Linked DNA regions of Homo sapiens: region 1 is linked to region 2. A link means that fine-mapping ties the variant in region 2 to the expression of a gene that starts in the linked region. Tissue or cell type: whole blood. Region 2 holds a variant in brackets; the other region holds the start of a gene. All regions are shown on one strand. Distances are from middle to middle.

Region 1 (5,408 bases), 34 kb after region 2:
CTAAACATCTAATCTCATCTAACCATCTAATCTCATCTCAACACAAGAAGCCTCATGGATCAGCCAACACAAAACCCTCAAGAGACCTCATGCCTGGAAGCAGGCGGGATCCCTGACCTTCCCAGTGTCATACACAGAATGATACTCTTTTAGCAGGGAAAGGGTCTACAGCCACCATCAGATTCCCAAGAGTGTATGACTGAAAAAGACTTTGAGCTAGTGGCCTCAAGCCACATTCTCTCTGAAGAGGAATGCGCAAGACAGTCCACAGGCATATGCGAGGGAAAAAATAATAAAACCCGTTCATAATTCTCATCTCATCCTTTAAAAATTCTTGTTTAAGGACATTATAAGGAGAGCCGTGTGCATATACAGGTTAGGGGCATGCTAGGCACACATTCCAGTTTCTGTTTGAATGACTGGTCCTTCCTCCTGGGCCCTCACCACAGACCACAATCCCCACCTGGGCTCTGCCACCCAGCCGACTCCATTCTTCTGCCTTTCCAGGGAGGAATCCTTTCTTGCCCTTCTGGAGGAACCCTATCCCTGTGAAAGCAGGGAAAGCTGCCCATCCTGGTGAAGAGCTCACTGTGTTGGAGTCCTACATTCCCAACAACTGCAGGTCAACACACAGGAGAAAGAACAGGCAGTGGACTTTTTTTTTTTTTTTTTTTTGAGACGGTGTCTCGCTCTGTCGCCCCGGCTGGAATGCAGTGGCGCGATCTCGGCTCACTGCAAGCTCCGTCTCTGGGGTTCACACCATTCTCCTGCCTCAGCCTCCCGAGTAGCTGGGACTACAGGCGCCCGCTACCACGCCCGGCTAATTTTTTGTAGTTTTAATAGAGACGGGGTTTCACCGTGTTAGCCAGGATGGTCTCGATCTCCTGACCTCGTAATCCGCCCGCCTCGGCCTCCCAAAGTGCTGGGATTACAGGCGTGAGCCACCGCGCCCAGCCACCAGCAGTGGACTTTATCCACAAGGCTCGGCCTCTGTCTCTTCATCTGTAAAAGAGGACAGTTTTTAACCTTCACAGACGGCTAATTTTTAAAACTTCACAAAACTGTGAGGTTCAACGGAAATCAAAGTGCAAAAGGCAAAAAAAGCCAGGATGTGCGCACACCTGTGGCTATCCTCCCAGCGTGTTAAGGTCCTGAATCTGGCCACATTCATCTCTGCTCCTCTAGCACGGAGTGTGCACCCCGTAAACAAATGACGAGACTGAGGAAAATAAAGACCTGACACATAGCTCCGTGCCACTCTGTGAAGATGCGTGCCGCTTTCATCAAGCACAAGCAGGTTAAGGATATCTGTTGCCGCCACCTTTGGGAAGCGCAGCTGTGGTGATCTGCGCTACCTGCCATCGGAATCCCTGCGGCAGGGCAGGGCCAAGATCTCAAATCGAATGACATGGAAGGAGCTAGAATACAAATCCCGAAGAGCCTGCGTCCCCGGCTTGCTAAGGTCTGGCAGGCCCCTCTGTGGGGCGGACGTGGCACCCCAGACCTGCCTGCAACACCGCGCAGCCCGCCCGCCCCCGAGAGCGCGGTTACCGGGAAAGTCACACTTGTAAGGGCGCTCGGGCTCGAAGTGGCTGCGCTGGTGGGAGCTGAGCTTGGCGTGCGTGGGGAAGCGCTCGGCGCACACCTCGCACTTGAACAGGCTCTCCTGCTCGTGGCCCTTCATGTGCGCCTTGAGGTTATAGACCGTAGTGAACTTCTTGCCACAGCCGCCCACTGGACAGCCGAAGGGCCGCAGCTTGTCGTGCGACTGCAGGTGCCGCTTGAGCTTGTAGGACGTTGTGAAGGCCCAACCACAGCCCTCCAGTGGGCACTTGAAGGGCCGCCGGCCCTGACCGCCGCCGTGCGTGAGCAGGTGCACCTTGAGCTGGTGCTTCTTGGCGAAGGCCAGCGCGCACTGCGGCTCGGGGCAGCGGTAGCCGGGCGTGCTGGGGCCGGAGGCCTGGGGCGCGCGGCGGGGAGCGGCGGCGCCCGCGGTTGCGGGGCCGGGCGGCGCAGACAGCGCGAGGACGCCGCGGTCGAGACGCACCAGCAGGTCCTGGCTGCTGATGGTGACGGCGCCCGCCGGGGCTACGCCAGGGCCGGGGGGGGCGGCCGGGCCGCTGGGGCCCTGCTCGGGGCGGCTCGCCAGGTTGACACGGGAGCCAGGCTCGGCCTCCTGTGATCCGGCAGCCTCGGCGGCAGCGCCGCCGTGCGGCACTTCCAGCAGCACCAAGAAAGAGTCGCCGTCGCTGTCGTCCTCGGCGGGCGGCGGGCTTGGCCCGGAGGCCTCCCCGGGCCGCGCCCCGGGCCCGCCATCTTCAGGGCCCCGCACCAGTAGCAGGCGGCGGCGCGCGGGGCTCGCGCCGAGCGGCGCTGGGGCTCGGCGGAGCGGGCCGGGGCCGCCGCCATGTTGCCCTCCGCGCGCAGTCGGGGCGGGGAGCAGCGCCGGGAGGTCCATCTTGGTCCCAGCGACGGCGTCGGAGCAGCTTCGGACGCAGAGCTGCCCGCGCCCCGCCCAGGTGTGCGTGCGCCGCCCCGGGACGCGATCCGCGCCAAGCCCCGGCGTAGAGTCCGGCTCGGAACCGCGCGTGCGCGGACGCCGCCGGGCGATGCGCGAGGCCTGCTGGGCTGACGTGACGTGAGGCTGGGCTGCGGGGCGCCGGAGGCGGAGGCGGGGGCGGGGCGCCGGGACCGACTAGGGCGGGGCGCGGGGTCGGGGGGCGGGGCGCGGGGTCGGGGGGCGGGGCGCGGGGTCGGGGGGCGGGGCGCGGGGTCGGGGGGCGGGGCGCGGGGTCGGGGGGCGGGGCGCGGGGTCGGGGGGCGGAGCGCCGGCACCTACGAGGGCGAGCGGCGGGGCACGGGACCGACAGGGGACGGGGTGAGGCTCCCAACGCTGAGCGATTCCTTCTCGTTCCCGCTGGCGTGGAAGACGAGGCTTGTCTTGACTTCGAATCGTATTAATATTTCAGACACTTAACAGGCAACCTCTCGTAGGCATTGACTGCGTCCCAGGGGCTGTACCTGTCCGAGCTGATTAAGCGTGCGCGGTCACCCAGGGGTGAGGAAACAGGGACGGCGAGCTCGAGTCACTCGGCAGCCGGCAGATCCAGGATTCGAACCTGTCCAACAGGCCGGACGCCTACCCCCAGCTCACTTAAGTGCAAGCTCGCCTGCCGCCGCTGGCGCACAGACCTCGTTTGCTTTGGCCCAGGTCCTTGCTCGGCACACGGGGCCTCCCTGATACGCAGGACCCCTGCCTGTATTTCCAACTGTATTTCCTACTAAACTTGGCACAACCTCACTCTGCAACAGCTTAATTACTTACTGTTTCCGGTCCTCACCCTCCCCCACCTCACCGTACACCTCCGCATTCAATCTGGACTCCTCCACTTCAACTTCACCACCACTCAGATCCAAACCCGCACTTTATTCCTGGGTACCTGAAAAATAACTACTAGCTGGTCATCGGTCTCCCTCCGCTCCACTCGCTCCCATCCACGGGGCACCGTTTTATGATCTAAAAATTGCACATCAAATTATGCTCACCTCCACCTTGCTCCCGAAGGCGCCTATGGCCTTGCTAGTCTACCCTCCCCTACCTGTTTGCCCTCACTTCCCGCCACTCTCCCGCTGCCCCCCCCACCCCTCCCCCGCACCCCACCTCTTTTTCCCAGTTCATCCAGCAAGCCAAGCTGGTTCCAGCCTCAGAGACTTGGCGCAGCTGATCTCTGATTCCTCTGGGAGGACTCTGCGCCCCTTCTGATCCAAAGCACATGCTTACCCAGTCCCGTATTCCCACCTCTGTCTGATCTGTTTGCTCTTAGAGCTCTCATCACCCGTTGTTTTGTTGAGTTCCTTCCCTGCTCCTTCACTGTCTCTCCCTCTCTGGAATGTAGGCTCCTGGAGCCCAGGAACTGTGTCCTATTCACTGTGTGTGCCCAGGAAGACTCTTGGTGCATATTTGTTAAATACATGAATGCTTTATTATTAAGAGTATTTTTTTAAGTAACACAAATTATAATATTAAAAAGAATAGGATACATCTATTATATATATCAGTTTATGCCGAAAACATATTGTTCCTAGACCATTCAGTAGAGGAAAGAATAGTCATTTCAATAATGGCGGCACTGGGACAACTGGATCTCCACATGCAAAAGAACCAATTTGGACGTGTATCTCTCATCAGAGGCAAAAATTAACTCAAATTAGAGCAAAAGCCTACACGTAAGACATAAAACTATTTGAAGAAAAGTAGGTGTAAATCTATGTGACCCTGGATTAGGGAATAGTTTCTTAGATATAATATTGAAAGCACAAGAAAGAAAAATAGATAACTTGGACTTCATCAAAATTAAAAACTTACTCAGGTAAAAGGACACCAATAAGACAGTGAAAAGACAACTCAGAATGGGAGAAGGGTGTGCAAATCGAATATCTGATAAGGATCTACTATCTGGAATATATAAAGAACTCTTAGCAAGAAGACAAACAGTCCACTTTTTTAAAAGGCAAAGGTTTGAATAGACATATTTCTCCAAAGAAGATAATACAAACAGCCAATAAGCAAATAAAAAGAGGCTCAACATCACGAATCATTAGGGAAATGCAAATCAAAACACAGTGAGATACAACTTCACACCTACTCAAATAGTGGTAATTTTTTTAAAAACAGGATATAGAAAAATTGGAACTCTCACATATGGCTGGTGGGAATGTATAACGTTGCGGTGTGGAAAACAGTTTGGCAGTTCTGCAGAAAGCTAAACATAATCTCCACATGACCCAGCAAGTCCATCCCTGTGTTGCTGAGGCTGGAGTGTGGTGGCTATTCACAGGTGCAATCATAGTGCGACCTCCAACTGGCCTCAAGCAGTCCTTCCGGGTCAGCCTCCCAATTAACTGGACTACAGGCATATGCCACCATGCCCAACTTGTTGCGCAGCATTGATTATGCCACATTCTCGTGATCAAAGAAGTCATAAGACACTGCAGACCCAGGCAAGGGGAACTTGTACTCCACCTCTCAATGGGAGGTGCTGGAAAGAATTTGCAGCCATTTTTAAACTATCACAACTTCTCTGTGCCTCAGTTTCCTCATGTGTAAAATGAAGGGGACTGAGAAAGAAAAAGGGCAGCCCCTGCCATCCAGAAACTGGCCGGGTGCTACAGCTGGGCCACTCTGTTCTGTAAGACTTGAACCATCACGCAGAAAACCAACCTAGGCCAAGGTCACTGAAACACAATGACATGAGACAAAGCAAGGCCACTTCATGATGTGTCTCCACCCAGATAAAGCGAGGTCACTTGCTGTGCCATTTACAAGATACCCAGCAGCCCCTCTCTCAGCTAACGTGAGCAGCCGCCGCTTTTGTACCCCTGACAGCCTGTCTGTCTGTGTGCTTCCC
Region 2 (5,408 bases):
AGCCCAATTTGAATGCAAAAAAACTAAAACACAATTTGCATGGCTTATTGTAAATATATAAACACGTAAGGCAAACTGTTAGAAATGTGATAAGCTATACGCTTTCGCTATTTCATATCAAACTCTGAATCATTCACTGCCACCCATCCTTAGCTTAACCACGTAAGCAAACTACTGAATTCATCCGAGTCTATTCTCCCACAGGCTGGGCCCTGGCCAGCCCTCTTCCCAGAGAATTAACTGGAATTCCTAGGCACAACACTTTCAAGAGCATATTAACTTCTCCTGCTTTGTCTACCAGCAGGAGCTGCAGCGTCCTGCAGATCTGAGCTCCACTCACCCACCTTCTCCAGAAGGCAGCAAGACATCCTGGCAACCAACCCACTGAGCCTCCCAAGCCACGCGGCCTCAGTGACCAGCCTGCAGCTGTGAAGCCAGGCTTCTGGAAGTCGAAGGCTCTGCGAGTCTCAATAAGAAAAACAAAGGGCAGTAAGGCATCCAGACCTGGAGGACGTAGACGGGCAGGTCCACAGTGAGGAAGGGGAGGAAGGTGGCTGGGCCGCGGGCCGAGGGCAGGACACCTTCGCCGGAGGGGTCATCCTGGGAAGGCAACACAGAAAGGCCTGTCACATGTCTGTGAGAGTGCAGCAAAGGTCCTCGTCTCACCTGAGAAGTCTCCTCCAGCTGCAATGCGTGGCAGAACCAGCCCACCCCCTGTATTCCAAGGGAGGCCCGAGGACCCAGCAGGAATTGTTTATGGGGGCTGGGTACTACCTGTTCCCACCTGGTTCTCATTCTGTCACCTTGATCCCAGCAGCTTTTGCTGGGCCTGGAACCTTCTGCTCTCCAGCTCCTCCCCTCAGTCAGCCCAAATACTGATTTCCCTCCTAAGGCACGCTCCTCAACTCCTTGCAGGTGCCCTGGCACGCCCTGTACCCCCACCAACCTTGTGTACCCAGAGTGCTCTCCAGCAAATCCTCGGGCCCCACAGAGGGCCTTCCCTGCATGCCCCAGCTTGCCTACGGGCCAGCTGGAAGGACCAGGGCAGGTAGAGGGGCTCCTGAGAGGGGAGGCTGCCAGGCCCCTCACAGTCCAGGCTAGAAACTTCATCTGTCCCACACTTCGCCTGTCCTGCACCTGCATGTCCGCCCATGGCCATTCACACCCCGAAGCGGAGCTCCTGGTGCTGCTGCTCTGCACCTCTCATTCCTTCTGTTTGAGAAGCTCCTGTGTGTCAAGGTCTGCACTACTGTTCCCATTTCATAGATGACAAAACTGAGGCCCGGAGTGCTTAAGTAACCAAGACTACGCTAGCTGGTAAGGGACAGAAAAAGAACTCAAACCCAGGTTTAATCAGGCATCTCTTAAAAGTATACCCCCTACTTGCTCCTGTTCTGCCGGTGGCACCAGCTTCCCTACCGTCTCCCTATTGCCAAGCCTCTGGTCCTGACTCTGTACCTCTGCCCTGCCAGCTGAGGCAGTGTTTCCTTGGATGGTCCTCCCCCTCCCCCTGCCCCTGCTCCTGGGGAGTTCTTACCTCTTCAGAAGCTGGAAACAAAGGACCAGTGCTCCTGCCCCTCTCTAAGACAAGCTTCAGCCCCCATCTGACGCTCACCGCTAGCTTCCAACCAGCACAGGGCCACCCCCAGCTGCCCGCAGCCTCTTCCCTGCCCCCTTCCCAGCCCACCTCTGCCCAGGCTGCCCCTCCTCTTGCCTCTCTGAGCCCCAGGCCTGGTCCTGTTTCCTTGGCGAGACTCTCCCAGGACTCTGAACCCACAAACGTGCCTGTTTCCCAACTCAGAGCCAGCGTCACCTCCACCCTCCGCACTTCCGTGGGGCCTGCAACCGCATCCCCTGCCACAGGGAATCTACAAAGTGGAGTGGTGAAGAGGGGCACACACCTGGGCCAAACCCAGACAGCCCCGGCTTGTATATCTCTTCTCTCCCCAAATCCTTCCAAATCATCTTCCCTCCCCATTCCAGCCCCTCAAACTGAGACTGAAGATGCAGGTGTGCTCAGGGCTGCTGAAGCAGGTGTGCTCAAAGACCTCCTGGAAACTGGCCACAGCTGCAGGTATCTGTGGCCCGGACAGGCTGGGAGGGGCCTGGGCCTGCCCTGGAGGGGCTCTGTTTCGTAGGAAAGAAAATAGAAAAACACTGAAAAGACCCCCACCACCTTCAGCATAGAAAGGCTGCTAGTGCGCCACAAGCAGGCCGCCCTAGAAATGGGGTGGCTGAGACGGCCTGCGGAGCCCTTTTGCCCCAGCCCTGCAGAAGAAGGGCAGGG[TG/T]GCCTCAAACAGATCTCATCCTGCTGCAAAACAGCCCTGGGGGCCTCGGGCAGGGAGGCGGGCTACTCTGGGGCTAGACGCAGGGCTGTGCACAGACAGGTTCAGGAAGTGGATGCACGGTCCCAGCAACACTCAGAGCTTGAGCAGATGCAGGACAGGCTGGGAAAAAGGGAGGAGCTGGGCTGTGAGGAGACAGGACTTGGGGCAGTCTACAGGGGAGGATGCACGAGGGGCAGGCAGGCAGGGGGTGCTGCGATGGGCAGGGGATGCAGCATGCCGCACACTGCTCAGACCTGCGTGACCCTCCCACCCCGCCTACAGCTGGCCTGTGTGACTGGCCAGCTCTCACCTGCACCAGCTGGACCTGGACGCCCTGCGCCCCGCACTGCACCCCAGCTGCTGGAGCTGGTCCTGGCCGTCCTCCGCTGGGCACCACGAGGCTCCCACACAACCAACTGTTCTGGCTTGCATGGAAATGGGGAGGACTCATTTTGCCTTCTTTTATTTTTCTCTGAGTAGACTGTGAGGCTCCTAAAATGAAATATAAAAACGAGCACACCCAATCTACAATCTACCAGTCAGGTCTGCCCTTACCAAGGTCTCACTATGGGGAAGACAGCCTTCCCATTAATTGTCATTCTGCACAGCTAAGAGACGTAAAATCACTTAACAGAAAAAATCAAGAGTTAAGAGGTTGAAACAAACAACCATACGAACAAAAAAACATCAGGATTTTGATTTTAAAAATGTAAAAACATCATACGTATTTTTTTGCCAGACGGTACGGTAATCAGACACAAGCTGCAAATTCTTGGAGAGCAGAATCCTCTAACTCCAGCAGCTGCTGGCTGGCAGGAATCCCAAGCGCAACTGAGGACAGCCAACAGCCCAGAGCCACAGCATCATGGAATAGGAAGGAAGCGGGCGGTCTCCATACCCCACCTGTGGGTGGACTGCTGCCTCTGTCCAGCTCCTTTCCAAGTCACTACTCCATGGGTTTTACAAATATGTGCTTCTTAAGAAATGAAGTAAAGCACAAAGAAAAAAGAAAAAATCTTAACACCCATAACAAACCCAAGAGCTGCTTCAAAAGGGCCCAAAGGTAGCCTAGAGCGTGCACTGCAGAGACCCCGGCTAGGCTCACCCTGACCCGCCACCCACTCTGCTCCAGGGATCTGGAAAAGGAACTCAAGCTCTGGGCCTCAGCATTATCTACCTGTAAAATGGGAATGCTAGTCCCAACCTCGGAAGGTTTTGGAGAGGATTTCATAGGAAATATGTGATCAAAACTTAGAACAGTGACTGGCGAGTGCCAAGGAGTTTAGGCACTGTCACTGCTCTGCCCACACATCCCTGCCTGGATGTGTGGGATCCAGCTATGAACGGCTTCAAAAAAACAACTGTACAATGACTATCATATAAGTTATTCCTAATAAAAGTATTCAATTGGGTGACCCTGCTGCCCAAGGCAGGCTGTTTTTACGAGGCTGTTTGACAGGAAGGTTCTGAGCAGCCCATGGGGTGAGAGCTGACTTGCCCTGCATATGCTGTCTCCCTGACCTGCTCACCTCACTCCAGATCCCTTCCTGTCTTCCGCAGTGCCCTGGGTCCCGGAGAGCTTCACACTCAGCAGGCAAGCCAACTGGGTGCACAAACCTTGGGTCCTCTGTACTTAGGCACAGCCTGCTGTCTTTTCTGGGTGCCTCAGGGCTCTTTTTCTTTGAAGTGCAAATGCTAACCAGGAGGTTTCTGGGTAACACAGATTCAGTTCCCCCTCACTGCAGGGAGATGCACTTCCATTACAAAATACTTCCTTTCTGTTCATCCATCAGTGTTCCAGAAAACCCAGCAACCCTCGCTCTGGATCATCTCTGACTGTTCTCCACGCCTGGTTTCTCTTTTTCTAATTGCTCTACTTGCTTCAGACAGAAGAGCAGGGCTGGGTCTGGGGCAAGAGAGGTGCCTGGGGCACAAAACTTACTCACCCCTCCTTGAGGAAACTTCACATCAGTTCCTAGTACTGCAGTCTATTAAGTCTGCAATAACATTATGTCTAAAACAATGCATACCTTAATTTAAAAATACTTTATTGCTAACAAATACCGACATAGACATGAAGTGAGAACATGCTGTTGGAAAAATGGTGCCAACAGACTTGCTGGATACAGGTTTGCCACAAACCTTCAATTTGTAAAAAGCAAAAAAAAAGTCAACTGCAAAAAATGAAGCGTGCCTATATCCTCCGTGAGCTTGTATACTATCCCACTTACCTCCAGAATTTTACCTGAATGCATTTCTATGCTTTCAAGTCTTTTATCACCCTAGCATATAAAAATATGTACATAAACTTAACTTTTATTTAACTTCTAGGCATTAACATTTTTGGTTTGAACTGTTACAACTGCAATTATTAGTAATGCAAAACAAATCAAAACAAAATATATCAGAAACTTTGATAGATAATTATGATATTAAAAGCAAAATTATATTAAAAATGCTTTTCAAGAGGAGTGGGACTGACTGGTGGTTTTCTTCCCCAGTTAGTTCATGTATTTGTGTCTAAATATTACTTCTTGCTAGAATTAGACATGGTCAGCATCTATTCTTGTCAATTAAAAACTTTTTTAAAATAAGATGCTCATGTGTCATCACAACTTTGCAGCTGCAGGTTGAGTTTATTCAAGTGAGGGGGAACTGCCTGCCCACGAAGCCCCAGCAGCAGGGCCGGTGCTGCAGCCAGAACAGTCGCATTACGCTTGCTTTCTAATAAAAGGCCTGGCTTCATTTTTAAATTCAAATAAAAATACTGAAACATGTTATTATATTAGAAATATTGGCCGGGCGCAGTGGCTCACGCCTGTAATCCCAGCGCTTTGGGAGGCCAAGGCGGGCAGATTACAAGGTCAGGAGATCGAGACCATCCTGGCTAACACGGTGAAACCTCGTCTCTACTAAAAATACAAAAAATTAGCCAGTGGTGGTGGCGGGTGCCTGTAGTCCCAGCTACTCGGGAGGCTGAGGCAGGAGAATGGCATGAACCCAGGAGGCAGAGCTTGCAGTGAGCCGAGATCATGCCACTGCACTCCAGCCTGGGTGACAGAGCGAGACTCCCTCTCAAAA

What was found. PIP is the estimated chance that this variant, and not a neighbour inherited with it, causes the effect.
Region 1: ZXDC starts here. The variant in region 2 is fine-mapped to the expression of ZXDC in whole blood (TOPMed, PIP above 0.99).

Annotation. Positions count from the first base shown.
Region 1 is chr3:126,473,408-126,478,815 of GRCh38, forward strand. ZXDC (ZXD family zinc finger C) reads right to left here and starts at 2,484. Exons shown (of 10, transcript NM_025112.5): 1 at 1,552-2,484. The coding sequence starts at 2,458. RefSeq lists an enhancer at 831-1,356 and silencers at 1,914-2,173, 2,244-2,753.
Region 2 is chr3:126,439,128-126,444,535 of GRCh38, forward strand. ZXDC (ZXD family zinc finger C) reads right to left here. Exons shown (of 10, transcript NM_025112.5): 8 at 2,638-2,819; 9 at 505-600. Among named protein-coding and RNA genes, the nearest start is that of ZXDC, 34 kb to the right of the region's middle. RefSeq lists an enhancer at 2,116-2,751. The variant TG/T (reference allele first, on the strand shown) is at 2,288.